7 linked regions of the Homo sapiens genome follow. The protein of the gene in region 1 purifies or fractionates together with the protein of each later gene. This does not show direct contact. Each region holds a gene or a part of one and is shown in the gene's direction. Other genes may lie near its edges. The genes, in order: LAMP1, PI4K2A, PLAA, FKBP10, ORC4, ATP6V1A and DNM3.

The links.
Region 2: the proteins of LAMP1 (region 1) and PI4K2A purify together in Homo sapiens (affinity purification with mass spectrometry; one large-scale study listed by BioGRID and IntAct). This does not show direct contact.
Region 3: the proteins of LAMP1 (region 1) and PLAA purify together in Homo sapiens (affinity purification with mass spectrometry; 2 studies listed by BioGRID and IntAct, with this or other methods). This does not show direct contact.
Region 4: the proteins of LAMP1 (region 1) and FKBP10 purify together in Homo sapiens (affinity purification with mass spectrometry; one large-scale study listed by BioGRID and IntAct). This does not show direct contact.
Region 5: the proteins of LAMP1 (region 1) and ORC4 purify together in Homo sapiens (affinity purification with mass spectrometry; one large-scale study listed by BioGRID and IntAct). This does not show direct contact.
Region 6: the proteins of LAMP1 (region 1) and ATP6V1A purify together in Homo sapiens (co-immunoprecipitation; one large-scale study listed by IntAct). This does not show direct contact.
Region 7: the proteins of LAMP1 (region 1) and DNM3 purify together in Homo sapiens (affinity purification with mass spectrometry; 2 studies listed by BioGRID and IntAct, with this or other methods). This does not show direct contact.

Annotation. Positions count from the first base shown.
Region 1 is NC_000013.11:113,299,928-113,303,877, forward strand, and holds part of LAMP1 (lysosome-associated membrane glycoprotein 1 precursor), read left to right. Parts: intron 1-3,950. UniProt on the Homo sapiens protein: Lysosomal membrane glycoprotein which plays an important role in lysosome biogenesis, lysosomal pH regulation, autophagy and cholesterol homeostasis.
Region 2 is NC_000010.11:97,650,270-97,654,219, forward strand, and holds part of PI4K2A (phosphatidylinositol 4-kinase type 2-alpha), read left to right. Parts: intron 1-671; coding exon 672-872; intron 873-3,950. UniProt on the Homo sapiens protein: Membrane-bound phosphatidylinositol-4 kinase (PI4-kinase) that catalyzes the phosphorylation of phosphatidylinositol (PI) to phosphatidylinositol 4-phosphate (PI4P), a lipid that plays important roles in endocytosis, Golgi function, protein sorting and membrane trafficking and is required for prolonged survival of neurons.
Region 3 is NC_000009.12:26,944,261-26,948,856, reverse strand, and holds the start of PLAA (phospholipase A-2-activating protein), read left to right. Parts: upstream 1-1,614; 5' UTR 1,615-1,811; coding exon 1,812-1,960; intron 1,961-4,596. UniProt on the Homo sapiens protein: Plays a role in protein ubiquitination, sorting and degradation through its association with VCP. Involved in ubiquitin-mediated membrane proteins trafficking to late endosomes in an ESCRT-dependent manner, and hence plays a role in synaptic vesicle recycling.
Region 4 is NC_000017.11:41,815,554-41,819,503, forward strand, and holds part of FKBP10 (peptidyl-prolyl cis-trans isomerase FKBP10 precursor), read left to right. Parts: intron 1-1,504; coding exon 1,505-1,650; intron 1,651-2,535; coding exon 2,536-2,725; intron 2,726-2,828; coding exon 2,829-2,974; intron 2,975-3,656; coding exon 3,657-3,846; intron 3,847-3,950. UniProt on the Homo sapiens protein: PPIases accelerate the folding of proteins during protein synthesis.
Region 5 is NC_000002.12:148,013,842-148,017,791, reverse strand, and holds part of ORC4 (origin recognition complex subunit 4), read left to right. Parts: intron 1-3,950. UniProt on the Homo sapiens protein: Component of the origin recognition complex (ORC) that binds origins of replication. DNA-binding is ATP-dependent. The specific DNA sequences that define origins of replication have not been identified yet.
Region 6 is NC_000003.12:113,795,502-113,799,451, forward strand, and holds part of ATP6V1A (V-type proton ATPase catalytic subunit A), read left to right. Parts: intron 1-374; coding exon 375-438; intron 439-2,741; coding exon 2,742-2,945; intron 2,946-3,950. UniProt on the Homo sapiens protein: Catalytic subunit of the V1 complex of vacuolar(H+)-ATPase (V-ATPase), a multisubunit enzyme composed of a peripheral complex (V1) that hydrolyzes ATP and a membrane integral complex (V0) that translocates protons.
Region 7 is NC_000001.11:172,386,905-172,390,854, forward strand, and holds part of DNM3 (dynamin-3), read left to right. Parts: intron 1-228; coding exon 229-455; intron 456-1,668; coding exon 1,669-1,905; intron 1,906-3,950. UniProt on the Homo sapiens protein: Microtubule-associated force-producing protein involved in producing microtubule bundles and able to bind and hydrolyze GTP. Most probably involved in vesicular trafficking processes, in particular endocytosis.

The DNA of each region.
Region 1 (3,950 bases):
TTAATGTGCGATTTCACCAAAAATCCTTTTTTCTTAAAAAAAGAAACTGCTCAATTACAAATTTCCACTATATTAATAATTAGGCATTGTTTAAAGCTACTGTGTTTGAATACTTAGAAAGCTCAAACATGAACTGAAACTTGTCCTGATAGATAGGATTAGCTGTGATTGCGTAATGTGACCCTTTAAACCATTGATGTCAGCAGGATGACCGCCTTACCCTTTCCACTTGAACAACTGTCACTTAGGAGGTTTGAACAATTTTATACTCGGCTGGGTGCAGTGGTTCACGCCTGTAATCTCAGCACTTTGGGAGGCCCAGGTGGGCGGATCAGCTGAAGTCAGGGGTTTGAGACCAGCCTGGCCAATGTGGTGAAACCCCGTCTCTACTAAGAATACAAAAATTAGCCAGGCGTGGTGTGGTGGCAGGCGCCTGTAATTCCAGCTACGTGGGAGGCTGAGGCAGGAGAATTGCTTGAACCTGGGAGGCAGGGGTTGCAGGGAGCTGAGATCGTGCCATTGCACTCCAGCCTGGGCAACAAAATCGAAACTCAATGTCAAAAAAAAAAAAAAAAAAAGAAAAAGAAAAGAAAGAAAAGCTGGGTGTGGTGGCTCATGCCTGTAATCCCAGCACTTTGGGAGGCTGAGGCAGGCCGATCACTAGGTCAAGAGATCGAGACCATCCTGGCCACAACATGGTGAAACTCCATCTCTATTCTTTTTAAAAATATTTTTAAAAAGTTAGCCAGGCGTAGTGGCACAGGCCTGTAGTCCCAGTTACTCAGGAGGCTGAGGCAGGAGAACTGCTTGAACCCGGAAGGTGGAGGTTGCAGTGAGCCGAGATCGTGCCACTGCTCTTCAGGGCAACAGAGCGAGACTCCATCTCAAAAAAACAAAGAAAAAAATTTTTTTTCTACTAACCGATGTTACCTTTGATTGTGCAGATTGTCAGTTATGCGGTGGAAAGAATGAATTTGTCAGCAGATTTGAGGTCAGAATGTCTTTGTAGCCCTGTAATTTTGAATTTGTATTGCATTAGCCCCATCCCAGACAACGTTACCCTTTCTTCTCTGTACCCAAGACTTTTATTGCATGTGCTTCTACATGGTAACATCTGTTCGGCTGCACTGGGATTATTTTTGCCTGTGTATCTCCCTTCCTTAACTGACAGGTAGTAAGTGCTGAGTACATATATGAAGAAAGGATCAATTTTATAGCAGTGGCTCTCAACCAAACATATGCACGGATCCACACGATCAGCTTTTTAGAAATATACATACCACAGCGAGGCACAGTGGCTCATGCCTGTCATCTCAGTGCTTTGAGGCTAAGGCAGGAGGATTGCTTGAGATCAGCCTGGGCAACATGGCGAGACCAGTGTCTCTACAAAAAAAATTAAAAAGAAATATACGGCCGGGCACGGTGGCTGTCACGTGTAATCCTAACACTTTGGGAGGCCGAGGTGGGTGGATTGCCTGAGCTCAGGAGTTCGAGACCAGCCTGGGCAATATGGTGAAATCCCATCTCTACTAAAATACAAAAAAAATTAGTCGGGCATGGTGGCGTACCCCTGTAGTCATAGCTACTTGGAAGGCTGAGGTAGGAGAATTGCTTGAGCCCGGGAGGCGGAGGTTGCAGTGAGCGAAGATCATGCTACTGGACTCCAGCCTGGGTGACAGAGTGAGACTCTGTTTCCATTTAAAAAAAAAAAAAAAAAATATATATATATATATATATATATATATATATATATATATATATATATTTACACACACACACACTTATACCTTGCCTCTAGAGGTTGTGATTCAGTGCCTGGGATGGTATTTTTTTCCTTTAGTTCTTCATAAATGATTGTGCATCATTGGTTAAGTAGAATAAAAATACCATATTTAAAAGAATCAAGCCAAGAAAAACTAAGATGTGATTTCTTTTTTTTTTTTTTTTTTTTTTGAGACGGAGTCTCGCTCTGTCGCCCAGGCTGGAGTGCAGTGGTGCGATCTCGGCTCACTGCAAGCTCCGCCTCCCAGGTTCACGCCATTCTCCTGCCTCAGCCTCCCGAGTACCAGGGATTACAGGCATGCGCCACCATGCCCGGCTAATTTTGTATTTTTAGTGGTGACAGGGTTTCTCCATGTTTGGTCAGGCTGGTCTCAAACGCCTAACCTCAGGTGATCTGCCCACCTCGGCCTCCCAAAGTGCTGGGATTACAGGCGGTAGCCACCACACCCAGCCTAAGATGTAATTTCTTAATAAATTGTTTTTTCTTCTTTTTTTGAGACAGTCTCTTTATGTTGTCCAGTCTGGAGTGCAGTGGCACGATCTCAGCTCACTGCAACCTCCACCTCCCGGGTTCAAGTGATTCTTCTGCCTCAGCCTCCCGAGTAGCTGAGACTACAGGCATGCGCCACCATGCCCGTCTAATTTTTGTATATATTTTTTAGTAGAGACGGGGTTTCACCATGCTAGCTAGGCTAGTCTCAAACTCCTGACCTCAGGTGATCCGCCTGCCTCAGCCTCCCAAAGTGCTGGGATTACAGGCTGGGATTACGGGCTGTGCCCGGCCTAATTTTTTAAAATGAAGTTTTTTACTCATTTCTTCAGATGGTAATCTTTAATGTCAAAAGCGAGTATTTCTTAATTTTTATTTATTTTAATTCAAAAAAATTAAATTTTTTTTTTAAGAGACAAGGTCTTGCTGTGTTGACCAGCCTGGTCTGGAACTCCTAACCTCAAGCAGTCCTCCGCTTCCTCAGCCTCCCAAAGTGCTGAGATTACAGGCATGAGCCACTGCACCCAGCCAGTGTTTCCTCATTGGAAGCCCGTTCCCTCAGTCATCAAGTGCTGGAGAGGCAGCGTGGCTCAGAAGTGGCACGTCCTGTGAGTCAGAAGACCCCTTCTAGATCTAGGTCTCCGCCACTCACTAGCTGTGTGACCTGGGTGGGTTAGTTGACCTCTCTATGCCTTAATCTCCCTATGAAGAGTTGTCATGATAACTGGGATGTGCTTAGAGCAGCACCTGGCACAAAGTAAGTGCATTCCAAGTGCTTGTTAAATGAGATAGTTTTTGATGTTTTGTGTCAGATACTGAGGATTGAATGATGAACTTGATGGGAACCCTCTGTACCTGTGCAGATGTTTAATAACAGCTGACATCAAAGCTGGCGTCAGTGCCGGGCACCAAATGCTCAGCTGCTCCGACAGCCCTGAGGCCTTGGCACTCTCTCCTCCTGCTCGTGGGTGCAGAGACTGGGGATTGGGCTCTGCTACTGGCCATGGTTGCACAGCTAGTAAGTGCTGCAAGAACCTCCAAGAACTGAGGGCTGTGACTCAGAAGCACGCATGCTTCCCACAGCGGCACTTGTTTCAGAGAACAGAATTTCTCCCAAGTGGGGGTATTTTGAAGCCACAGTTACTCCTTTATGTGATCCCTGGAGAAGTGGTCCTGTTCGTGTCTGAGTACAGGACTGCCGGAGATAGCAGTCACCAGTAGGCCAGGGTGCCCACCTTGGAGATGCTGCCAACGGCTGTCCTGTTGGGCTGTGACACCTGTCAGGTTACTGGAAACATTGTAACTTACTTGAGGTTTTTTGTCTTTTTTTTTTTTTGCTACCCAGTTGCCACTGTTGTGGAGGTTTTTAAAAAAACTTCTGACCCTTATAGCATACATACATTTCCTCCTCAAGCTCTGTGTGCTGATGCTCTTATTTTCTTCTATACCAAAATTGCCTTCTGAGGGTAAGTTTATTTTAATAACTCAAAATTCCTGGGTCTCTCCAGAGTAATACAGGCATCTTGTGCTGCCAAAGCTTACTTTAAATTTATTTAAATGATATTTCTTTGTTTTCCTCTGAAAGCTGAGACCTGGCTGGGCATGGTGGCTTACACCCATAATCCCAGCACTTTGTGAGGCTGAGGCAGGTGGATCACTTGAGGCGAGGAGTTGGAGA
Region 2 (3,950 bases), on another chromosome or scaffold:
TTCTGTACCTTTTTTTTTTTTTTTTGTGAGACAGGGTCTCGTTTGGTCGCCCAGGGTGAGGAATGCAGTGTGGGCAATCTAGGCTCACTGCAACCTCCGCCCCATGGGTTCAAGTGATTCTCATGCCTCAGCCTCTGAAGTAACTGGAATTACAGGTGTGCACCACCGCGCCCAGCTACTTTTTGTATTTTTAGTAGAGACAGGGTTTCGCCATGTTGGCCAGGCTGGTCTCAAACTCCTGGCCTCAAATTATCCACCCGCCTTGGCCTCCCAAAGTGCTGGGATTACAGGCATGAACCCTTGTACCTGGCCTGCTTCTGTGTCTTGCTCCTAGAAATGTAGCAATCCATTTACCTTGTTTGTTTGAAGCACAAAGTTAGAGGTAGGTACTTATATGAGGGAAAAGAGATGGAGAAGAGGGAAAAAGGAGCAAGGAAGAAAGAGAAGACTTAAGATGTTCTTTGGCCACAACCCTTTCTAGCAGTGGGTCTCTTAGCTGCACACACGAGCTGGTGTCTTCCCCTTACCAACTGGGAGAAACCTGAGTCCAACTGTAAGTAGGAATTGTCTGCCTATGCCCTGTCATTTCTTTCCAGATTCCTGCTGACTTGGTCTGTGGGCTATTTTGGTCAACTCGGATTTAACATCCTCTTTTTCTTTGGTCTCTGTAGAGGATCATTGCTGTCTTCAAACCCAAGAATGAAGAGCCCTATGGGCATCTTAATCCTAAGTGGACCAAGTGGCTGCAGAAGCTGTGCTGTCCTTGCTGCTTTGGCCGTGACTGCCTTGTCCTTAACCAGGGCTATCTCTCAGAAGCAGGGGCCAGCCTGGTGGACCAAAAACTGGAACTCAACATTGTTCCCCGTACAAAGGTCAGTGACCCATCTCCAGGAAGCCTTACTGCCTGGCCACAGTTTTCCTGGGGCCTAAGCCCTGCTACATGTTAGTGGGACCTTGGGTCCAGTGGGGTCATTTATACCCTAAGTCTGGGTTCTCGATCTTTTTTCGGGAGGATGGCAGGATTAGGCTTATGATTTGATCACCTGATGAAGGCTATCTTTTGAAGGATACACACACAATTTTTGCATACAATTTTAGGAAATTCACAAACTTCTACTGCATGTTTATGGCTCCCTTGGTCTTTGAATCCCAGCTAACCCCAAGCTAGTTAGAAACCTAGTGACTTTGTGGCTTACTCTCAGACTTCTGAGCCATCCCAGCATTTCGATACAGTCTAGGACTGGCTGATGACAGCTAAGAACTTCTGCAGGGTCTGACAAGGAAGACTTTAGGACAGGCTGAGGGTTAGAACAATGGTCTGGCCTGAACCCTACAGGGAACTGACATGGAATATTTCTAACTTATCTTTATGCTGTCGAATTTTGGGACTTGTCTGAACACATCAAAATAGGGGTGCCAGATCTAGGCAAACTCACACTCAGAATGGATTCATACACATCTTGTATGTGTTATAGACATAGTTGAGGTCTCCCCCAACCCCCACCCCCACCAATATGCTTGAATACAGAATTGATTGCATACAATTTGAGGGAGTTTACTGACACCAGGCTAAGAACCCCTGCACTACAAGGTATTCCATGAAACTCACCAAAGGTTATGAGGGGAAGGAATCTACTGGTCAGCATATGAACATGTCCGGACACATCATTCACTGAGTACGTGGCTACCTGGGGTTTAGTAACAACTTAGGTGGGACTCTCATCTGATGCCCTGAGGCTGCTGAGTCATCTAAACAATCCTGGCTCCGTGCTTAGTCTTAACTAGTCTATGCTAGTTTATTTAGTTATTTACTAAATAACTAAAACTAAATTTATTTAGTTATTTAGTAAATAACTCTTTGAGAATCTGATGAAACCTATAGACCCCCTTTCCAGAAAAAGTACATATATTTGCAATTATTGTTTTGTGTATAATTTTAGGGCAATGGTTCATAAACGTTGCAGTCTATCTGTTGACACCCCAGGGAGCATGTCTCTAGATTAAAATCCCTCTGCTTAAAGTTTTCTTTTCTTTCTTATTTTTAGAGACAGGGTCTTGCTCTGTTGCCCAGGCTGGGGTGCAGTGGCATGATCACAACTCACTGCAGCCTTGACCTCCCAGGCTCAAGCAGTCCTCCCACCTCAGCCTCTCAGGTTGGGACTACGGGCATGTGCCACCATGCCTGGCTAATTTTTTTTTTTTTTAATTTTTTGTAGAGACAAGGTCTCCCTGTTTTGCCCAGGCTGGTCTTGAACTCCTGGGCTCAAGCTATCCTCCTGCCTTGGCCTCCCAAAGTGCTGGGATTACAAGTGTGAGCCACCACACCCAGCCTTAAAGATGTCTTCTCAGGTTTAGATAGCAGATTCTATGAGCAAAGAGATTGATCAGCAGTAGAAACTTCCCTTCCGTTTGAGAGGAAAATGTGACTATTGTGGATATTTAACCATGTCTGCTCCTTTGCTACTAAACTCCAAACAATTAGCCAACTAGTTTGTAAGTTATAGAAGTCAGAGACCACTTCTCAAGATTTCCTCTCTCATTCTCAGCACCTAGCAAAATACTATATTTATAGTAAGCATTCATGAAGTACCAGCTGAGTCAGTAAATGAATATGAAATCATGAGAAACAATACCAAAGTTCTTCCAACTTTAGGTCTAGCGAGAAAATGTTTGACCAGGCTTCTAGTTCCCATTTCACATCTAATTCACTGCCTGGCTTTGTACAGCTCATTCCTTCTCTTTATGCCTTACTTTTCCCTCTCTGTGCAGATAGTTTTACAGCATGCTTTGAACATCTTGTATGATAATTAATGTTCTTAAGTCTCCTAACCTGAAATGCTTCTACTAGGCTCCTCTTAGACTCTAGAAACTTTTACATTCTCCTTGCTTATCACTCTATAGTTTTCTTCCTTTACTAGGCAAATAGCAGACCGTGTCTGGCTCTATGCCTACCTGCTCTGTTGGTGCTTCTGGAGTGTGGTGCCCAAGAATCAGAGGACTTGAGTTTGAATTCTTGCTCTGCAGTTTTTGATTTGTGTAACACTTGGGCAAGTCATGTAACCTCCCTAGGCTCAGTTTCCTTACTGTAAAAATAGGGATATAAATAGTTCCTACTTTGTAGAGTGGCCATCAATATTACACAAGACAGCCTATATGAAGCACATAGCTGAGTGAGTGCCAGGCACAACGTAAACCCTCCATATGTTAGCCTGTGATATTTTTATCAGCTATTCTAATCGTTAGTGTCACCCCCACAATCCCTTTCGTCCCTATCTTTGGTCTTCCTCTTTCCCTGTTAGAGAACCTTCACGAGGCCTGAGGATCTTTTGCATCAGAAAGTCAGCAACAACAAAAATACTTGTCTTGGCTGGGCTCATTGGCTCACGCCTGTAATCCCAGCACTTTGGGAGGCCTAAGTGGGTGGATCACCTCAGGTCAGGAGTTCGAGACCAGCCTGGCCAACAGGGTGAAACCCTGTCTCTACTAAAAATACAAAACTTAGCTGAGCATGGTGGTGCGTGCCTGTAATCCCAGCTACTTGGGAGGCTGAGGCAGGAGAATCGCTTGAACCTGGAAGGCAGAGGTTGCAGTGAGCTGAGATTGTGCCACCACACTCTATCCTGGGCAACAGAGCGAGACTCCGTCTCAAAAAAAAAAAATACTTGTCTTCCATGAGACTGAGATGAGACAGAACTTTGGAAGCTTAACATATAGCTGCTGGAGAATAGTAAGAGGACTCCTCTCCCTGTCTCCCCAACTCTTGTGACAGGACTCTATCCAGTTGATCAGAGCATCTGTCATTATAGAAACAAGGTTCACATTGCATTGGAACTTCAAATGGTAAGGCTCTAATTCTCACTCACTGGCTGTCTCTGCTCTCTGCTCCTATGAGGTTTCAGGTTATGATAGTTTCATTAGTCATGGGGAAAAAGTGGTTTGTTAGGAAGAAT
Region 3 (4,596 bases), on another chromosome or scaffold:
AGAGAGATAACAGAGGGAGATGAATCTAGTAAAACAGATTAGGGAGATTGTGTGAAAGGCCCTATGTAATGCTGTACTATAAGAATGGAAAGCCGGCCAGGCGTGGTGGCTCACGCTTATAATCCAGCACTTTGGAAGGCAGAGGAGGGCAGATTATGAGGTCAAGAGATTGAGACTATCCTGGCCAACATGGTGAAACTCGTTTCTACTAAAAACACAAAATTTAGCTGGGCATGGTGGCGCGCTCCTGTAGTCCCAGCTACTCGGGAGGCTGAGGCAGGAATCGCTTGAACCCGGGAGGCGAGGGTTGCAGTGAGCCGAGATCGCGCCACTGCACTCAGCCTGGCAGCAGAGCGACACTCCGTCTCAAAAAAAAAAAAAAAAAAAAAAAAAAAAAAAAAAAAAAAATAATGGAAAGCCATCACAGGTTGTCAAACAGAGAAAAAACAATTAAGTGTATATTTCAGAAAGATAATTATATTTTAATGTGTAGGATTGGCTGGAGAGAAGGGGTAGAAAGGCCAGAGAAATGTTGAAATAATTTAAGTAGGACTAATTGGTACAGATTTCTAACAGATAGCTAGAAATACAGATCTAGAGTTTGGAGAAGACAATATGGGAATACAGCTCTAGAAATAAGCCAAGTAGTAAATAATCCACCCAGGGAGGGGATATGATAGCAAAGAAGTATCAAAAGTCAGCATTTCAAGAATGATCTCCCAAACCAGGGGAAAAGTGATTCCAAACCTAGAGTAGGAGTTTTAGGAAGGGAGAAGTCAGAAAAGTGTGAATTGGGCTTAGCAATTTAGAAAGGTTTGTGGAAAAGTGTAGTTGGATGCGAGAGAATAGCGGATGGGAAGAAAACAAAGTAAGGAGACAGGTCATGTTTACCCTGGCACTCAATAAGGTCTGATAATGACTAGCAAGTAGCACCACGGGTGGGTGGGCGGCGGGGTTGTTAAAAATACGTATCTCAGCTCTAACTCAGACCTACTGAATCAGAATCTACATTTTAACAAGCCGCCAGAGAAAAGTAGTTATACCTTTAAAAAATTGACTTGGACCACCGTATTTGCTAAATTTGACAACAGAGAGTAGGAGATTCAGATAACTTGAAACGGAGGAATAGTTCAATGATTAATAGTTCCCAATTTGGCCTCAAGCTTTCTCGTTTTAATTGAAAAACAAGGTTAACTTGCAAAAACCTCGAGATTCTCAGGGAAAAGCAGTGAGGATGACCTAACAGTAGACACCAAACAACCTCACTCAGCCATTCCGCCATGCCCAGCGCGAAAGACTCAGGTTTAAAATATCCGGATTCGGCGCGCCGGATGTCCACGCCAGCTGGCGCGGCATTATGGGAATTGTAGTCCCGGCCCGCTTCCCGATTTACCACAAACTGTTGGGCCCGGAGTCGGAAGAGACCCGGGTTTGGGAAGGACCCCAGGGTCAGGCGTCCTGGTGGAAGGGCGGGCCTCTTTCTCTCTTGCTCAGCAGGGAGTCCAGAGCCCTGGAGGAAAGCCAGCTCAGCTCCGCATCGGCGTCGGCGGTTGGGACGCACACACTCTGCGTCATGGAGGGCTGAGGCCGATGATGAATTCCGGAGTGCCTGTCAGGCTTGCTGTGTCACTCGGCCCGCTCGGCGCGCCCCTTCCCAGCCGCCCTTCCGTACCGGCTCTCGGGCTCTTCCGGTCTCCGGCCGCCCCTTACCTGCAGGCTCTTCTCCCGCCGCGGCCCGGCGCTCTCCGAGTCGCCCCTGCGGACTGGTCTCGCACAGTGCCTGGGCACCGGGCGCCAGACAGACACTGGCCATGACGAGCGGCGCAACCAGGTACCGGCTGAGCTGCTCGCTCCGGGGCCACGAGCTGGACGTACGGGGCCTGGTGTGCTGCGCCTATCCGCCGGGAGCCTTTGTGTCCGTGTCCCGAGACCGCACCACCCGCCTCTGGGCCCCAGACAGGTGAGCGCTGGGAGTCGGGTTGCCCCGGCTGTGTTGCACGCTTCCCGGAGAGTGGAAGGAGAGTGACCCTTCCCTGTCAGTCCTGCCGTCTCTCTCTCCCCCCAGCCTTCCCTCTGCTCTCCGCTCCCTTCCAATTCTCAGACTATTAGAACTCTGTAAGAAACCATCGGGATTTAAGTGGAAAGAGCACAGGGTTGGGGGACCAAAGACCTGCCTTGTTGTGCTAACTTGACCACAGACGAGTCTCCTACCTTTTGGGCCTTCAGTTTTTGGACGATGATCTCCCAAGTTTCTTTTAGACTTGAAAATTTACTGATTGCAGTTGCACCCTCCGAAGTGAGGTAGTTTGAAGGCATCTGAAATGTCCTCTTTTTTTTTTTTTTTCGAAGAAGATGCTCTGTAGTCTTCTGTAAAATTTAATTTTTGAAGACTTTAGTTCTCAAAAATTGCACTGGTGAATCCTCTTTTCGTCCAGGTTAGAATTTTAGTCTGTGGTCTGTGCTGGTCCTGAGGGAGTGAAACCTCTCGGATGTTTTGTTTCTGTGCATGTGCTGTTTCTTGAGGAGAAGCAGCATCCATTGCCTTCAAAGGATTTATCAGAAGGGTTCACGAACCAAAAAAAAAAAGAAGAAAAAGGTTAGGAATCAGTCCTGATCGAGTTCACGGGTTCAGCCCTGATTTGGCTGGTTGTAACAGGATATTTAAGACCTAGAAGACAGATTGCAGTTCAGAGAAAGAAAAATTGAGGTTAGTTATTTTGTTATTTAGTAGGTCTCCCACTGCTAGAGATTTTAGAATTTGAGTCACCATCCATAAATTCAGTTGATAACTGTTGAGTGCCTCCTCTTTGTTTGGGATACTGGAGAGGAATAAAGACAGACAAGTTGCCAGTGTTTCTGGAGCTTTCTTACAGTCTGATGGGGAAGATAGATTAAAAAACAAGCCAATAAATAATTAAAAACTGGCATGTGAAGAAAACATACAGTTAATTAGGTGGAGAGATATATTAAAGGAAGCCTCTCTGAGGAGTTGTTTGTTTAAAGTTGACATTTGAAGCATGAGATGGATGGAGCTGGTCGTGGAAGAGCAAATAGGGAGGATTGAATTGGAAGAGCATTCCAGGCAGCTGGAGGAGCAAACAGGAGGGAATTAGCTGTGAGGTGAGGGCAGGTTTTGAGGCTGGCAAGAGCCAGGTTATGGAGTTTGCAGATGGAAGCCTTCAAATAGTTTCAAGCAGGGAGCAACATGATCTGATTTCCGTGTTGAGAAGTTTCTGCTAGCTGATGGTAGAGAATAGATTGAGAAGGGATAAGTGTAGAAGTGGGTTTGCTTGGAGGCTTTTGAAGTAGTATAATCAACACAAGATGGTCCACTAGGCTAGGGATAGTATAGAGCAAATTCCTGTATTGAATTGAATGAGATGATCTCTAAAGATCTAACTCTAAAATTCTATAATATCCAAAACTACTTAGTAATACTAATATGGAACTTTTTGTTTGAGTACAGTTATTAAGTTTTTGCCTTTAAAATTGAATCCAGTAGAAGCATAAGCCCAGTAGAATATAACCATTGCAGTAAGGAGTATAATCAAGGATGCCTGTTTTAATAATGGAATCCTGTCATTAAACTTTTGGGACTGTACTAGTTTGACAAGGGTTTAATCACTGGAGTGGTTGTGCTTACCAGGAACTTGAAGAACTTTGGGCTGAACTGATTCTCTATTTGAAAAGTGATTTTGTTGTTCATTGAACTATTGATTTTTTTTTTTTGAGACAGAGTTTTGCTCTTGTTGCCCAGGCTGGAGTGCAATGGCACAATCTTGGCTCACTGCAACCTCCGCCTCCGGGGTTCAAGCGATTCTCTTGCCTCAGCCTCCCAAGAAGCTGTGATTACAGGCATGTGCCACCATGCCCGGCTAATTTTGTATTTTTAGTAGAGATGGGGTTTCTCCATGTTGGTCAGGCTGGTCTTGAACTCCTGACCTCAGGTGATCTGCCCACCTTGGCCTCCCAGTGTTGGGATTACAGGCGTGAGCCACCACGCCTGGCCGAACTCATGATTTTTTTGTTTTTGTTTTTCAAAATTCATTCCTGTATGTATTTATCTAACACTGATGAAGAACTTGCATTTTGCCACAGTGTGTGTTAGTGCGTAGTGAGATAAGATTATTTAGTCTCTCATATCCTGCTGGTTAGGTTAGCAAGCTTGTCCATCCTGTGGCCCATGGGTGGCTGTAAGAGTGGCCCAACACAAATTTCATAAACTTTCTTAAAACATTATGAGGCTTTTTTTGTGATTTTTTTAAAAATGCTCATCAGCTATTGTAATTATTAGTGTATTTTATGCGTGGCCAAAGACAATTTTTCTTCCAATGTGGCCCAGGAAAGTCAAAAGATTGGATACCCCAGGGTTAGAGTGTTTCATAGTCATTAGGTGATTAAGCTCTTATTGATGCCAACTGAAGTGTCTCAACCATACCTTTAATGTTGTAAAAGTGTCCTCAAATCTGACATATTGACAATTTTTATTTCATGATACATGTCTTCTCTTTTGTGTTGCTGTAGCAGAATACCACAGACTGGGTAATTTGTAAAGAAAAGAAATGTATTTTTCATAGTTCTGGATGCTGGGAAGTC
Region 4 (3,950 bases), on another chromosome or scaffold:
CTCCTGGGTTCACACCATTCTCCTGCCTCAGCCTCCCGATTAGCTGGGACTACAGGCGCCTCCACAATTTTTTTTGTATTTTTAGTAGAGACGGGGTTTCACCATGTTAGCCAGGGTGGTCTCCATCTCCTGACCTCATGATCTGCCCGCCTCGGCCTCCCAAAGTGCTGGGATTACAGGCGTGAGCCACTGCGCTCGGCCAGAAAACTTTCTTAACCCATGGCCCCTTCAATTAAAAAAAAAAAAATCTCCCATCCTCACTTTACTTCTGAAAACTTAAAATAAATTAAAAGTGTATATAATTGGCTGGGCACAGTGGCTCACTCCTGTAATCCCAGCACTTTGGGAGGCCCAGGCAGGCAGATCACTTGAGGCCAAGAGTGACCAGCCTGGGCAACATGGCGAAAGCCCTCTCTACTAAAAATACAAAAATTAGCCAGATATGGTGGTGCATGCCTGTGATCCCAGCTGCTACTTCGGAGGCTGAGGCAGGAGAATCGCTTAAACCCGGGAGGTGGAGGTTGCAGTGAGCTGATTGCACCACTGCACTCCAGCCTGGGTGACAGAGCCGAGACTCCATCTCCAAAAATACATATGTATAAGTAAAAATAAATACATTAATTAAAAGTGTATAACTAAAAACAAACAAAAGCCATGGCACTTTTAGAATAGGCTTTTTTTTTTTTTTTTTTTTTTGAGAGGGAGTCTCACTCTGTCGCCAGGCTGGAGTCCAGTGGCACGATTTCGGCTCATTGCAACCTCCGCCTCCCGGGTTCACGCCATTCTCCTGCCTCAGCCTCCTGAGTAACTGGGACTACAGGCGCCCGCCACCACACCTGGCTAATGTTTTGTATTTTTAGTAAAGACGGGGTTTCACTGTGTTAGCCAGGATTGTAGAATAGGCCTTTTCAAAATGTGAAACCAGCTCCCACCCCACCTCTGCTCTCCCGTCTTTTCTTGGAGAGCCAATAGTATAATGGCAAATTTTAGAACTCAGCTGACTACATATTAGCTGTGTGACCTTGGGCAAGGCACTGAGTCTCTCAAGTCTCCATTGCTCTCATTAAGAAAAATGAGAACAAGAATGCCCACCTCACAGGGGAGACAAAGAAGATACGGAATGTAAAATGCCAAGCATTTAATCCCATATAGTAATGCTCCTCTGCCCCTCCGTGCTGTACGTACCACTCCCCACTTGCTGTCAGCAAATAGTAGCAGCCATCAGGCCCGGGCATCCCACCCAACCCCGTCCCAGGGCAATAGCAGCCCTTGTCCTCCTCAGGGACTTGCCTTTCACAACAGTCCGTTCTCTTAAGGTGGGCGTCACGGCCGACCTAGGAGGGGGACTTGAAAAGGAGGTGAGAAGTGTGTGTGCGTATCCACACCTGGCTATAGGGAGGGGGGATTGTGTGCGTGTGTGCAGGCACACCTGTGCATCTGTGCCACCATGGGCAGTGTGTGTGTGTCTGAGGTCACTGTATCCCATCTGTCCCTCCCCCCCCAGCTATGATCGCAACACCTTGGTGGCCATCGTGGTGGGTGTGGGGCGCCTCATCACTGGCATGGACCGAGGCCTCATGGGCATGTGTGTCAACGAGCGGCGACGCCTCATTGTGCCTCCCCACCTGGGCTATGGGAGCATCGGCCTGGGTGAGAAGGGCTGGGGCACAGGCCGGGGGTGGAGGAGACCACGAGGCAGAATCAGGGATCCTGGGGTGAGAAAACTGAAGTGCGGAGATGAGGAGTGACTTGCCCAATGTCACACTGTGCACGCAGTATGAAGAGTGGCAGCTCTGGCTGGGGCAGTAGCTGACATATATGGTCCCAGAGTTTTGGGAGGCCGAGGTGGGAGGATTGCTTGAACCCAGGAGTTCCAGACCAGCCTAGGCAACATAGTGAGACCTCGTCTCTACAAAAAATAAAATAAATTATCCAGGTGTGGTGGTGTGTGCCTGTAGTCCCAACTACTCAGAAGGCTCAGGTGGGAGGATTGCTTGACCCCGGGAGGCTGCAGTGAGCCATGATCATGCCACTGAATTCCACCCTGTGTGACAGAGCAAAACCCCTCTTTTTTTCTTTTTCTTTTTTTTTTTGAGACAGCATCTCACTCTGTTGCACAGGCTGGAGTTTAGTGGTGCGATCTCGGCTCACTGCAACCTCAGCCTCCTGGGCTCAAGCAGTCCTCCCTCTCAGCCTCCCAAATAGCTGGGACTACAGGTGCACACCACCACACGTGGCTAATTTTTTGTATTTTTAGTAGAGATGGGGTTTCGCCATGTTGCGCAGGCTGGTCTTGAACTCCTGGGCTCAAGCCATCCACCTGCCTTGGCCTCCCACAGTGCTGGGATAACAGGCATGAGCCACTGTGTCTGGCCCCCTATCTCTTAAAAAAAAAAAACAAAAATAGTGGCATCTCTGTCCCTGGTTTGGGTCTCTTGGTGCTGGGATGAGAGGAAGGGGAATAACAGGGCCCTGGCTGGGATCGTGGTTGGCAGAGCAGAACTCTGAGACCTCCACGCTGCTGCGCTCTCACAGCGGGGCTCATTCCACCGGATGCCACCCTCTACTTCGATGTGGTTCTGCTGGATGTGTGGAACAAGGAAGACACCGTGCAGGTGAGCACATTGCTGCGCCCGCCCCACTGCCCCCGCATGGTCCAGGACGGCGACTTTGTCCGCTACCACTACAATGGCACCCTGCTGGACGGCACCTCCTTCGACACCAGGTGAGGGGCTGGAGGGGAGCCCTGAGGCACTGGGGACTGTGGCATGGGGAGCGGGAATCCGGGGCCCAGCCTGCCTCTCCCACCTCCACCTCATTTTCTGCAGCTACAGTAAGGGCGGCACTTATGACACCTACGTCGGCTCTGGTTGGCTGATCAAGGGCATGGACCAGGGGCTGCTGGGCATGTGTCCTGGAGAGAGAAGGAAGATTATCATCCCTCCATTCCTGGCCTATGGCGAGAAAGGCTATGGTGAGGGTGGGCAAGGACACAAGGGGAAATTCCGCAGAAGAGGGAAAAACCAGGCCTCCACATACAGTTGCTCAGGTTGTATACTGCACGAGGGCATCCAACCAAGGACTCAAGGTGGGATGAAATCTACCCTTGGTGCTACTAAGAAGGGGTGCTTTGGCCGGGCGTGGTGGCTCACGCTTGTAATCCCAGCACTTTGGGAAGCCAAGGCGGGAGGATCACGAGGTCAGGAGATCGAGACCACGGTGAAACCCCGTCTCTACTAAAAATACAAAAAAATTAGCCGGGCGTGGTGGGGGCGCCTGTAGTCCCAGCTACTCGGAGAGGCTGAGGCAGGAAAATGACGTGAACCCGGGAGGCGGAGCTTGCAGTGAGCCGAGATCGCGCCACTGCACTCCAGCCTGGGTGACAGAGCGAGACTCTGTCTCAAAAAAAAAAAAAAAAAAAGAAGGGGTGCTTTATTCTGATTCACACGAAGGCTCAGTATGAGCCGGTGGTGGCCCTGGGGAAAACCCAGCTCAGGTCTTACTGGAGGAGCAAGAAGCAGGGCTGCTGATGGGCGGGAAAGGGCTCTGGAGAGTGGGGCTAGTGTCTTGCATGGTGCCCACTGGGCCTTCCTGAGTCAAGAAGGAGCCTCGGCTTGCTCCCCAATTTTATGGTTCAAGCCCTATCCCTTCCCCAGGGACAGTGATCCCCCCACAGGCCTCGCTGGTCTTTCACGTCCTCCTGATTGACGTGCACAACCCGAAGGACGCTGTCCAGCTAGAGACGCTGGAGCTCCCCCCCGGCTGTGTCCGCAGAGCCGGGGCCGGGGACTTCATGCGCTACCACTACAATGGCTCCTTGATGGACGGCACCCTCTTCGATTCCAGGTCAGGAGGGTCTTGAGGTGGGAGGGCGGGGGCTGGGTGAAACGTGGACGAAGCTGGGGGTCACTCTGAGCTGCCTGGAAGGGGAGGGCCCCTTTGACTCCCTT
Region 5 (3,950 bases), on another chromosome or scaffold:
GACACTTGATTCAGTTACTGTAAAACCTGTATGTTTGGAACAACTCGGATACATAAACCTTTCTTAACCGCAAATTATTAAATTATTATTTTTTAATTTTTGGAGATTTTTTCCCCCCTGGAGATGGAGTCTCGCTCTGTTGCCCAGGCTGGAGTCCAGTGGCATGATCTTGGCTCACTGCAACCTCCGCCTCCCAAGTTCAAGTGATTCTCCTGCCTCAGCCTCCCTAGTAGCTGGGATTACAAGCATGTGCCACCACACCTGGCTAATGTTTTTATTTCTAGTAGAGGCAAAGTTTCACCATTTTGGCTAGGCTGGTCTCAAACTCCTGACCTCAAGTGATCCACCCACCTTGGGCTTCCAAAGTGATGGGATCACAGACGTGAGCCACTGCACCCGGCATTAGCTGCAAATTATATAAAAATATAGATCAAGTATTTTATATGGCAGTTTTAATTTAGCATCTGCATTGTAATGTTGTATAAACACCATATTTCAAAGACAGTATGAAAACAATGTAAAATACCTCAGCTTTTCATTATGATTACATGTTGAAATTATAATTGATTTCACCTTGTTTTCTTTTAGTGTGAACAATAGAAAATTTTAAATTACTTATGTCACTTTTACTGTATTGCTGCTGGACAGTACTTTGAGCTAGATGTTCCTATGTGTTTACCATGTCTTAATTTCTTCCTGCGTCTCTGACTTTTCTTTTGGAATCTTTTAACTTTTACTTTAGCACACTCAGTAGAAGTTTCATAATGCAGACATTCTGATGGTCAGTTCTCTTAATTTTTTTGCTTTGTCTTAATTTTTTGTTTTGCCTTCAATCTTGAAGAATGTTTTGGGGGATATTACAGATTTGTGGTTGTTTTACTTGTACCTTGAAGATAACATTTCACTGTTTTTGGTTTTCATTATTGATTTTGAGAAATCAGCTGTCAATGCATTAGGTTGGTACAAAAGAAATTGTGGTTTGGGACAGCGAATTTTAAATCATTATAACGAGGCTCTAACATATCTTTATTAATTAAAATAGGTCATTACAATCAACACATTTTTGCCGACAAGAAATAAGTTTGTTTTTTCCTGTAATGTAAAAATCCATGCTTCAGGATTCCACAAACTCTTGGAAAGCTTTTTCCTGCATCCTGCTGGTTGTGGAAGCATTTTCCCTGAAAAAAGTTGTAGAGATGCTTGAAGGAGTGGTAGTCAGTTGAGAGGTCAGGTGAATATGGCAGATGAGGCAAAACTTTGTAGCCCAGTTCGTTCAACTTTTGAAGTGTTGGTTGTGCAGTGTGCGGTTGGGTGTTACTGTGGAGAATTGGGCCCTTTCTGTTGACCCATGCTGGCTGCAGGCATCACAGTTTTAAGTGCATCTCATTGATTTGCTGAGCATACTTCTCAGATGTAATGGTTTCTCCAGGATTCAGAAAGCTGTAGTGGATCAGACCGGCAGCAGACCAGCAAACAGTTACCATGGCCTTTTTTGGTGCAAGTTTGGCTTTGGGAAGTGCTTTGGAGCTTCTTCGCGGTCCAGCCACTGAGCTGGTCATTGCTTGTCATATAAAATCTAGTTTTTGTTGCACCTCACAGTCCGATTGAGAAATGGTTCGTTGTTGTGGAGAATAAGAGAAGACAACACTTCAAAACGGTGTTTTTTTAAATTTTTGCTCAGCTGGTGAGGCACCCACTTATCGAGCTTTTTCACCTTTTCAATTTGCTTCAAATACTGAACAACTGTGGAATGGTTGACGTTGAGTTCTTACGTTGAGTTCTTCAGCAACTTCTCATGTAATTGTAAGAGGATCAATCTGCTTCAATGATTGCTCTCAATTGGTTGTTGTCAACTTCCAGTGGCCTGCCACTACACTCCTCATCCTCAAGGCTCTGGTATCTTTTGCAAAACTTCTTGAACCACCACTGCACTGTACGTTCATTAGCAGTTCCTGGGCCAAATGCATTGTTGATATTGCAAGTTGTCTCTGCTGTTTTACGACCCACTTTGAACTTAAATAAGAAAATCACTCAACTTTGCTTTTTGTCTAGCATCATTTCCATAGTCCAAAATAAATATAAACAGCAAGTAATAAGTCATTAGCCAAAAAAAAAAAGCAAGAAATGCCCATTAAAATGACATATAACATAACCACATTTATTTAAGAATGTATTCCAGGCCGGGTGTGGTGGCTCACACCTGTAATCCCAGCACTTTGGGAGGCTGAGGTGGGCGGATCACGAGGTCAGGAGATCGATACCATCCTGGCTAACATGGTGAGACCCTGTCTCTACTAAAAATACAAAAAATTAGCCAGGCGTGGTGGCGGGTGCCTGTAGTCCCAGCTACTCAGAAGGCTGAGGCAGGAGAATGGTGTGAACCCTGGAGGCAGAGCTTGCAGTGAGCCGAGATCGCGCCACTGCAGCCCAGCCTGGGCAACAGAGAGAGACTCCATCTCAAAAAAAAAAAAAAAAAAAAAAAAATTCCAATATCAAATGGCAAATTCCAACAATGCAAAAACCACAATTAATTTTGTACCAACCTAATAATTCATGCTGCTTTGAAGGAAATCTCTCTTTTAGAATTTTTTTTTGTTTGTTTCTTTTTTTGGTTGTAATTTTTCTGCTGTTTCACTCTAATCTTTTTGTGTGGAATTCTTTTCTTCTTTTTTTTTTTTCTCCTAGTCAAGTGTGGTTGTGGGGGTAGAGGAAATGTTCAATCATCGTGTGGCATTCTTTATCTTGCCCTGTATTCATCGAGATTATTAGATCAATGCATCAGTATCTTTTTAAAGATATTGGTGATATTCTTACTGTTTCTGGTTACCTGCTGAAAATTACAATCTTGCTTTTATTGGCCTAGTATAGTTGCTCCTTAGTATCTGCTGGAAATTGGTTTCAGAACCCCGTGCAGATACCACAATCCACAGGCAGCTCAAATTCCTTATATAACATGCCATCATGTTTGCATACGGCCTACACACATCCTCCCACGTATTTTAAATAATCTCTAGATTGCTTATGGTACCTAATACAATGTAGATGCTATGTAAATATTGTTATACTGTCATGGCTTTTTAAAAATTTCTATTATTTTTTATAGTCGTGTTTTTAAAAATATACATGTATTTTTAATCCTTGGTTGAGTGAATCTGTGGCTATGAAGGGCCGACTATATTCATAGTTCATTTGTTGTTTGTTGAAGATAATTCCAGTTTCTAAATTTTCTAAGTCTGTGTCTGCTAGCTTATGATATTTTTTTCTTGTGTGCCTTGAGTACCAGTTGTATTTAAAAAATTATAGGAATATATGAGTCCTAGAATAATAGTATCTTTTTTAAGAAGGTACATTTTTCTAGGAAAGGTCTCTAGGAGTGCTTTCAGTCCCAAGTCACTATTCATGTTCAAGAGTTGGGATTCCTTCTGTTATACACATGACATTAAGGAAGACTTTAAGATCATGAATTCTATTTTCCTTCAATTTCCTCTTATCCTAATGATGTTGTCCTTAAACTCTGAACATAAATTGGGTAGTTTATCTGAGTCCCCAGCTTTGTTAGGCAATGTGCTTTTATTTTTATTTTTGATTTTGATTTTTTGTGTTTATTTTTATTTTAAATGAGGTCTCGCTGTATTGCACACAATCATCCTGAATTCCTGGGCTCAAGCTATCCTCCTGCCTTGGCCTGTCAAAGGATAGGATTACAGGCATGAGCCACCACACCTGGCCTTGTGCTTTGATTTTTTTACCATAGACCGGCACATCTTCCATTAGCTCAGCCTTTTTTCTCAGCCTTTTCTTCTAGACAGGAAAATGTCCTCAGAACAAAAGTTACTTGGTGTATGGTTTGTTTCTGGTTTACCTTCACATGGAATTTGGTAAGTAATTTCACATTACTTTATTTCATTCATTATTTAGTTTTTTTGTTGGCGTCAGCAGAAAGGTTGGTC
Region 6 (3,950 bases), on another chromosome or scaffold:
GCATCACGGTAAAAAGAAAGTGAAGATTCGTGATCACTACATAAAGCCATACTTTTTTCTTAGAGCGTTTCCTCCTTGCTTCATCTATTTGATTAGAATAATAAAATTGATTATAATAAAATATCTATCTCATGTCTCATAATAGAAGGTGTTCTGTAGTTTCTATTGTTGTTTACAACTTAAATACTGGCTTTTGTTTAAGATTTTTAGGTAAGATTTTCTTTCCAAAGGTCATTTCTAAAGTTATTTACATTAAAAAGTTATTTACATTAAAATCGACTTTAAAAAAAGTTAACATTTATATATATGTTATTTTTCATAAGCATTTCTAATGACCATTTTTTTTGTAATGACCATATTTTTTTTAAATTTAGAGTTTCTCCACCTGGTGGTGATTTTTCTGATCCAGTTACATCTGCCACTCTTGGTATCGTTCAGGTATGTCTTTCCCTAGTATAGTCAACTTCTGAGCCTTTCCTCCTCTCTGCAGCCCCTGCTGTTCTAATGCGATCTAATGTAATCGTTGTGAAGTATTTAATTTAGTCTCTAAAGGATAGGCAATGGTAAAGTCTGGTTTAGAAACACTCTTAACACAGAGCCTTTAATACTGTCTGTTTTTTTCTTAGCTGTTTACATAGGATTTATAATAAACTTAATAATATATAAGTGGAAAATATAGGTAGCAAAAATTTTATTAGTATTAGAGTAGTATTATCCTTTAAGTCATAGTAACCCTAGTTATAGAAACAAAGAGGCCCAAAAATGTGTAATACCCAGAAGTTATTTCACTTCACAGTATGATCCAAGGCTCTCTTCTGTTTAGTGATAATTCTGAGTCCAGGATTCTTTCCATCTTGTGACTCCACTGTCACCTAGCCTGGTGATCATCTGCATCTAGCTGACACAAGGGAGCTGGGCCTTGTGGAGAAGGCATACCCACCTTTTTTGAACCTTGGATTCAAAAGTGACACAGTCACTCCACTCATTCTATTAGCCACATCCAGGTGAAAGCAAGGCTGGAAAATGCAGTTTCTGCCTAAGCATTTGCTTTCCAGTGACAAGACATGAATTTTAGTGGATAGGTAGCCAGCTTGGCTATTAAAAGAAGCCCAAATAAAAGATGTGTACAAATCAGAGCTATAGTTAAAAAAAAAAAGTGATATGTGTATATTATTCATGTGGGAAAAACAGAATATTTACTTGTGTTTCTGACAGTATCAGAGAAAAGGAAATGTCAGAGGCTAAATGTACAACTCTCAAGCTTTTTAACGTTTGCTAAAATTTTGAGTTTTAAATTATGGGGAAAGAGGGAACAGAGTTAGAAATGCATGGAATATCTGTGAATGTTTGCCCTTACAAAAATCACTGTCAGTTGTTGTTGGATTGGCCCTGTGAATGATAGGCAACTAAATTTAATCAAAACACTTAGATGTTTTTGTTTTGTTTGTTTTGATACGGAGTTTCACTCTTGTTGCCCAGGCTGGAGTGCAATGGCACAAACTTAGCTCACTGCAACCTCCACCTCCCGGGTTCAAGTGATTCTCCTGCCTCAGCCTCCCAAGTAGGTGGGATTATAGGCACCCGCCACCACACCTGGCTAATTTTTTGTGTTTTTAATAGAGACAATATTTCACTATGTTGGCCAGGCTGGTCTTGAACTCCTGACCTCAGGTGATCCACCCGCCTCAGCCTCCCAAAGTGCAGGGATTACAAGCGTGAGCCACCATGCCTGGCCCAGAACAGTTAAAAAAAAAATTTTTTTTTTTTTGAGATGGAATCTCACCCCCATCATGCAGGCTGGAGTGCAGTGGCGTGATCTCAGCTCACTGCAACCTTCATCTTCCGGGTTCAAGCAATTCTTCCTCCTCAGCCTCCCAAGTAAGCTGGCATTACAGGCATGCGCCACCACCACGCCCGGATAATTTTTGTATTTTAGTACAGACAGGGTTTTGCCATGTTGGCCAGGCTGGTCTCGAACTCCTGACCTCAGGTGATCCACCTGCCTCAGCCTCCCAGAGTGCTAGGATTACAGGCGTGAGCCACCATGCCTGGCCAGTTAGAGGTTTTTAATCAAAGTAAAGTGTGTATTCGATCTACATAAACCTTTTCTGGTTCTATTGTACCATAATAATTTTCAAAAGAGTAAATTAATTTTTCTTTTTGCTTTTGGATTTGGCACAGTATTAAGAAAATAGAGGTAAATTTTAAATTCGATTTGTAGGTATTATGCACTTGGAAAATGAAAGGAAATAGATTATTGTCATTTTCTGCAAGTTTTATTCTGTTTTAATTTTACTTAGTATATACTAAAACGATGTATAATTTGACCAGTGAATTGTAGAATTGCATATTTAGGGGTCAGGCATGGTGGCTCATGCCTGTAATTCCAGCACTTTGGGAGGCCAGGGATCACATGAGGTCAGGAGTTCGAGACAAGCCTAGCCAACATGGTGAAACCCCATCTCTACTAAAAGTACAAAAATTAGCCGGGCCTGATGGCGCATGCTTGTAATCCCAGCTACTGGTGAGGCTGAGTCAGGAGAATTGTTTGAACCCATGAGGTGGAGGTTGTAGTGAGCCGAGATCATGCCACTGCACTCCAGCCTGGGTGACAGAGCAAGCCTCTGTCTCAAAAACAAAAAAAAAAGAATTGCATAGTTGGGACAAACATGCTTCGGTATTTTTTAACTTTGTTTTTTGAGAAAAATTACTGTTTTTGTGTGTGTGTTTTTTTTAATCAGGTGTTCTGGGGCTTAGATAAGAAACTAGCTCAACGTAAGCATTTCCCCTCTGTCAATTGGCTCATCAGCTACAGCAAGTATATGCGTGCCTTGGATGAATACTATGACAAACACTTCACAGAGTTCGTTCCTCTGAGGACGAAAGCTAAGGAAATTCTGCAGGAAGAAGAAGACCTGGCAGAAATTGTACAGCTTGTGGGAAAGGTGAGTTGTTAAATTCCATGGAAGATAGATCTGTGGGTTACACTGGGGTGTTTCAAGGACAGATAGAGCCTTGGATATTACAGATTCTTGCCTAGCAAAATAAATATTTATTAAATATTTTTAATTGAAATTTTCTATTCATTATAGTACTTAGCATGGTTTTTGGGTATATTGTATGTGAGAAAGAAACATTTGATTTACTTTTATCTTGAAATGGAATATACCCATCACCAACCAAATTAGAGGTAGTAGATTTAGGATTTGTTAGCATACATTTTTGTAGGAATGCTAGGGCTAGGTTTCAGAAGGATTGGCTTCTAGTTCCTCCAATAATTAGCTATTGGCCTTAAACAGGTGAGTTACATTCTTGTGCCTGTATCTTGGATTCTTCAAGGAAAGATGGTGTAATTAAATTTAGGCAAATTAAATGCCAGAATGAAAAGACTTCTCAGATAGTATGCAATGCTAGTTAGTACTCAGAGTTCTTTGTCTGGTTTTGTTCTTTTTATTACATGTTACAAAGTCATCTCCTAATTTATTCCAAAAAAGGTTAATATTAGGAGATAGCTAACATTCTAACATGTATTACTACTTACTATTTATAGAATAAAAATATTCTCTTATCTGCCCAATAAGAGAAGCAAGAAACAGGAAGAACTGCAAAACCAGATAAAGACAATACAAGAAAGGAAAACTATAGGCTAATATTGTTGATGAATGTAGGTATGAATGTAGATACTTAATAAAATATTAAATATTAGTGTATGAGGTCTAGTAGGATATTAAAGAAAATAAAATGATACATCATAAGCAAGTTTATCTCAGGAATGTCCATATTAGACACAGAAAATCTATTGTAATTCACTAATGTAATAATACAATGGAAAAAGGATATCTCAGTTAATGTGGAAAAATATTTGAAGTTTATTACAATTTTTAGAAACATCTTAGCAAACAAGGAATAGAACGGAACTTCCTTAATGTGTTAAAAGTAATATACTAAGA
Region 7 (3,950 bases), on another chromosome or scaffold:
TCCTTCAGTGTGGACAGCCAAAAGACAGAGGGAAACTGTTACTGTCACCAGTACTGGGGATAGAGACAAAACAAAAGTAAACAGACGCTTGGTGCTTCACTTTTCCCAGGGTGGACTTTGGTGGACTTTGGTGGACTTTGTCCAGACTCTGACTGCCACAGCCATGTTTCTACCTCCACTCAGTCACTCATTTATTCCCATTTTTATTTCTCTGTGGTGATCTGACAGGTTAAAGATTTCATAAATTCCGAGCTCCTAGCACAGTTGTATTCTTCAGAGGACCAAAATACCCTGATGGAGGAATCTGCTGAGCAGGCTCAGCGCCGGGATGAGATGCTTCGAATGTATCAAGCACTGAAAGAAGCCCTTGGGATAATTGGGGACATCAGCACAGCCACCGTGTCCACTCCGGCACCCCCTCCAGTGGATGACTCCTGGATACAGCACTCTCGCAGGTAAGAAGATGGCCCCGGCCGGGTGCGGTGGCTCGCTCCTGTAATCCCAGCACTTTGAGAGGCCGAGGCGGGCGGATCACGAGGTCAGGAGATCGAGACCATCCTGGCGAACATAGTGAAACCCTGTCTCTACTAAAAACATAAAAAAAATTAGCCGGGCGTGGTGGCGGGTGCCTGTAGTCCCAGCTACTCGGGAGGCTGAGGCAGGAGAATGGTGTGAACCCGGGAGGCAGAGCTTGCAGTGAGCCGAGATCGTGCACTGCACTCCAGCCTGGGTGACAGAGCAAGACTCCGTCTCAAAAAAAAAAAAGAAGATGGACCCACCCACAACCCCTGAGCCCTGCCACGCTTGTCCAATATCATTTTCTGAGAGTGCTTTCCTAAACCAAGATGGACCTACAGAAAAAGGGGAAAAGATATTTACATTCAGGAGTAAGGATCAGATTATACTAACTCCCTTAAAAATGCAGCACAGTGCATCCTCACAATGGAATGTTATATAGTCACTAAAAAGAACAAGACAGTTCTATTAAGTCCTAAAATGAAAAGATAATCCAGTTAACGGGAAGCTTTAAAAAAAAGGGAGGTTGTATGCCAGGCGCGGTGGCTCACGCCTGTATTCCCAGCACTTTGGGAGGCCGAGGCAAGCGGATCACCTAAGGTCAGGAGTTTGAGACCAGGCTGGCCAACATAGTGAAACCCTGTCCCTACTAAAAATACAAAAATTAGCTGGGGGTGGTGGCGCACACCTGTGATCCCAGCTACTCGGGAGGCTGAGGCAGGAGAATCGCTTGAATTCAGGAGTCAGAGGTTGCAGTGAGCCGAGATCACGCCACTGCACTCCAGCCTGGGTGACAGAGCGAGACTCCGCCTCAAAGAAAAAAAAAAGGAGGTTGTAGAAGACTGTGTTCTATGGTATACAGAAAAGCAATTTATATATAGAGAGAGAAAATATATACTTATACAAATGTAGAATACAGTTAAAAAGGATGCACAAGAAACTTCTATAGTTGTTTCAACAGAGTGAAGGGGTAGGGAGAGGAAAACTTACTTTTCTCCATTTACCCTTTTATCCCTTTGACTTTCATGACATGAATTGGACTTATTCAGTCAAAAAATAATTTTTAAAAAGCAGGAAGTTACAAAACATTTTTAGAGATTAATTCAGACAGAAAGGAGGAGTGAGCAAACTATGATTTCTCTTTTTCCTCAGGTCACCTCCTCCAAGCCCCACAACCCAAAGGAGGCCAACACTAAGTGCTCCCCTCGCAAGGCCCACATCCGGCCGAGGACCAGCTCCTGCCATTCCCTCTCCTGGCCCCCACTCTGGGGCTCCTCCAGTCCCATTCCGTCCAGGCCCATTACCTCCTTTCCCCAGCAGCAGTGACTCCTTCGGAGCCCCTCCACAAGTTCCATCTAGGCCTACGAGGGCCCCGCCCAGTGTCCCAAGGTAAGGCATGGAGCAGAAATTGGGGGGGTAGTGCGCCTTGGTTCTCTTCTCATAGAATGACAGACAAAATTTATTTGAAAGAGAAAATTGCAAAGATCTTATCGTACGTGTTTGCAGTTTTCACAATGAACAGAGACTATAGGAAAATTGCCAACCCTGTTATGCCATTTAAAAATCACTTGTGATCATTGAAATTTCTCATTTATCAATTGGCACAGACTAAATAGGACTAAAGAACACTCCGTCCCAATGAATGACATTTTGGCAGCTATTGGGAGAATTTGAGGGCTTTGAAACAAAAGAGCTATGGAGGATTGTAGCAAGCTGTGTGTTCTATAGGTCATGAGAGTTCCATGGACTAAAGTCTTGCCTTCTCCATTATCAAAAGAATTCTTGAAAACCACTGACTTAGAGAATTTTATCCATCTGCCTTCTGAACTGTGATCCTTATACTCAATTTTACCAATTTTCATATAGGCTGAATAAATCTGGCTGATTGATCTGCAATTGTTTTTTTAAAAACTACACATAGAAATTTTAATATAGGCATGATTGTTGTATACAGTCACTAATCATATATAAGATAGATCATTGTACATCTGAATAATACGTGTTGACAATTATAAGTGGATTTTCAGGCTTAATTGTGAAACAATATAGCTAATAAATAATGGACCTAGAAACACACATAGTTGGAGCTGTAGTCTCACCTTCATATACTTACAGTCAAAATATACACAATGAATAGAATCAGAGATTTTTAAGGTATAAAGTACTAAGGTTTTTTTCCCCCTCAAAATCAGAAATATAAAGAGGAAAGAAAATTAGCCCATATATAAAGTTAATTTTTAAAAAATTCAATTCAGAGAATTAAAATATTTATATACTCCATGAAGGAATATCTGACTGTATATGAACCATAAAAACAGATGTGACTTCTACCCATCCCTGAAGCCTGAGCCACCTTGCCAACTGATTATGGCACTTACGTTTTATTTTAATCTTCAAGTTGTTAAGCGTAATGAAGAGAAGAGAAGAAGGGGGATCTTAAGCTAGTACACAGAGGGTGGTACAGCAAGAATAGGCAGGAGATTTGCAGTCAGAAGACCTGGGTTACTGAAGGTCTTGGGCAACTCATTTAACTCTGAGACGGGAGTTCTTTATCTATGAAACAGGGAGAACTCAATAAGGTTGTTCCCCAGATCATATGACATGAGGTATTTGAAAGAGTTTGATACACTGTAAAGACTACAGTTGTTACCACTGTTATCATTTTGGTCCTAAGCAAAGAGGATATATACACACTCTCAATCCAATTTTTTTTCTCTAAATTCAATAGACTTGGCTTATAAATTATTTGGAATGGTGCTAAATTTCTAGTAATAGCAGTACTAGCAATAGCCAACATTTATTGTGCCCTCAATATTACTAGGCATTGCCCTAAGAACTTTGTATATACATTTTTGTTTAAAGCTCACAACAAATAGGTTGTTATCCACATTTTACAGATGAGGCAGTGAGGTTAAACAGCTTGCCCAAGGCTGCTCAGCCAGTCCCTAGTGGAGCTGGACTTTAATCCCATGCAGTCTGCTTCCAAAGCCATTTCCTGACCATGACCCCAGGGTTTTTCAGCCTCATCAGTACTGACGTTTTTGTTGTGGAGGGCTGTCCTGTGTATTGTAAGATGTTTAGCAGCATCCCTCCCCTCTACCCTCTAGATTTCAGTTGCAGTCCCCAGTTGTGACCACTAAAAATATCTGTAGACACTCCCAATGTCCCTTAGGGGAGTAAAATTCCTCTCCACGTGAGAACCACTGCACTGTAGTATTCAAAAGAATTCCCTTCCATGTAAAACCATGAATTTCCGCATTGAGCCTTGCTACAAGCAAGATCCAATTTATTATTTTAGAAAACCTCAAATTGACTAGGAAAGTGTCTGCCATTGTACCAGGAAGGTATTGAGGCCATTGGAAGAGGAAGAGTTGAGAGTGGGAAGGCTGGAGTGCCATGCAGGAGCTACTTTTGTCTGTCTAGCTGTGAGAAAA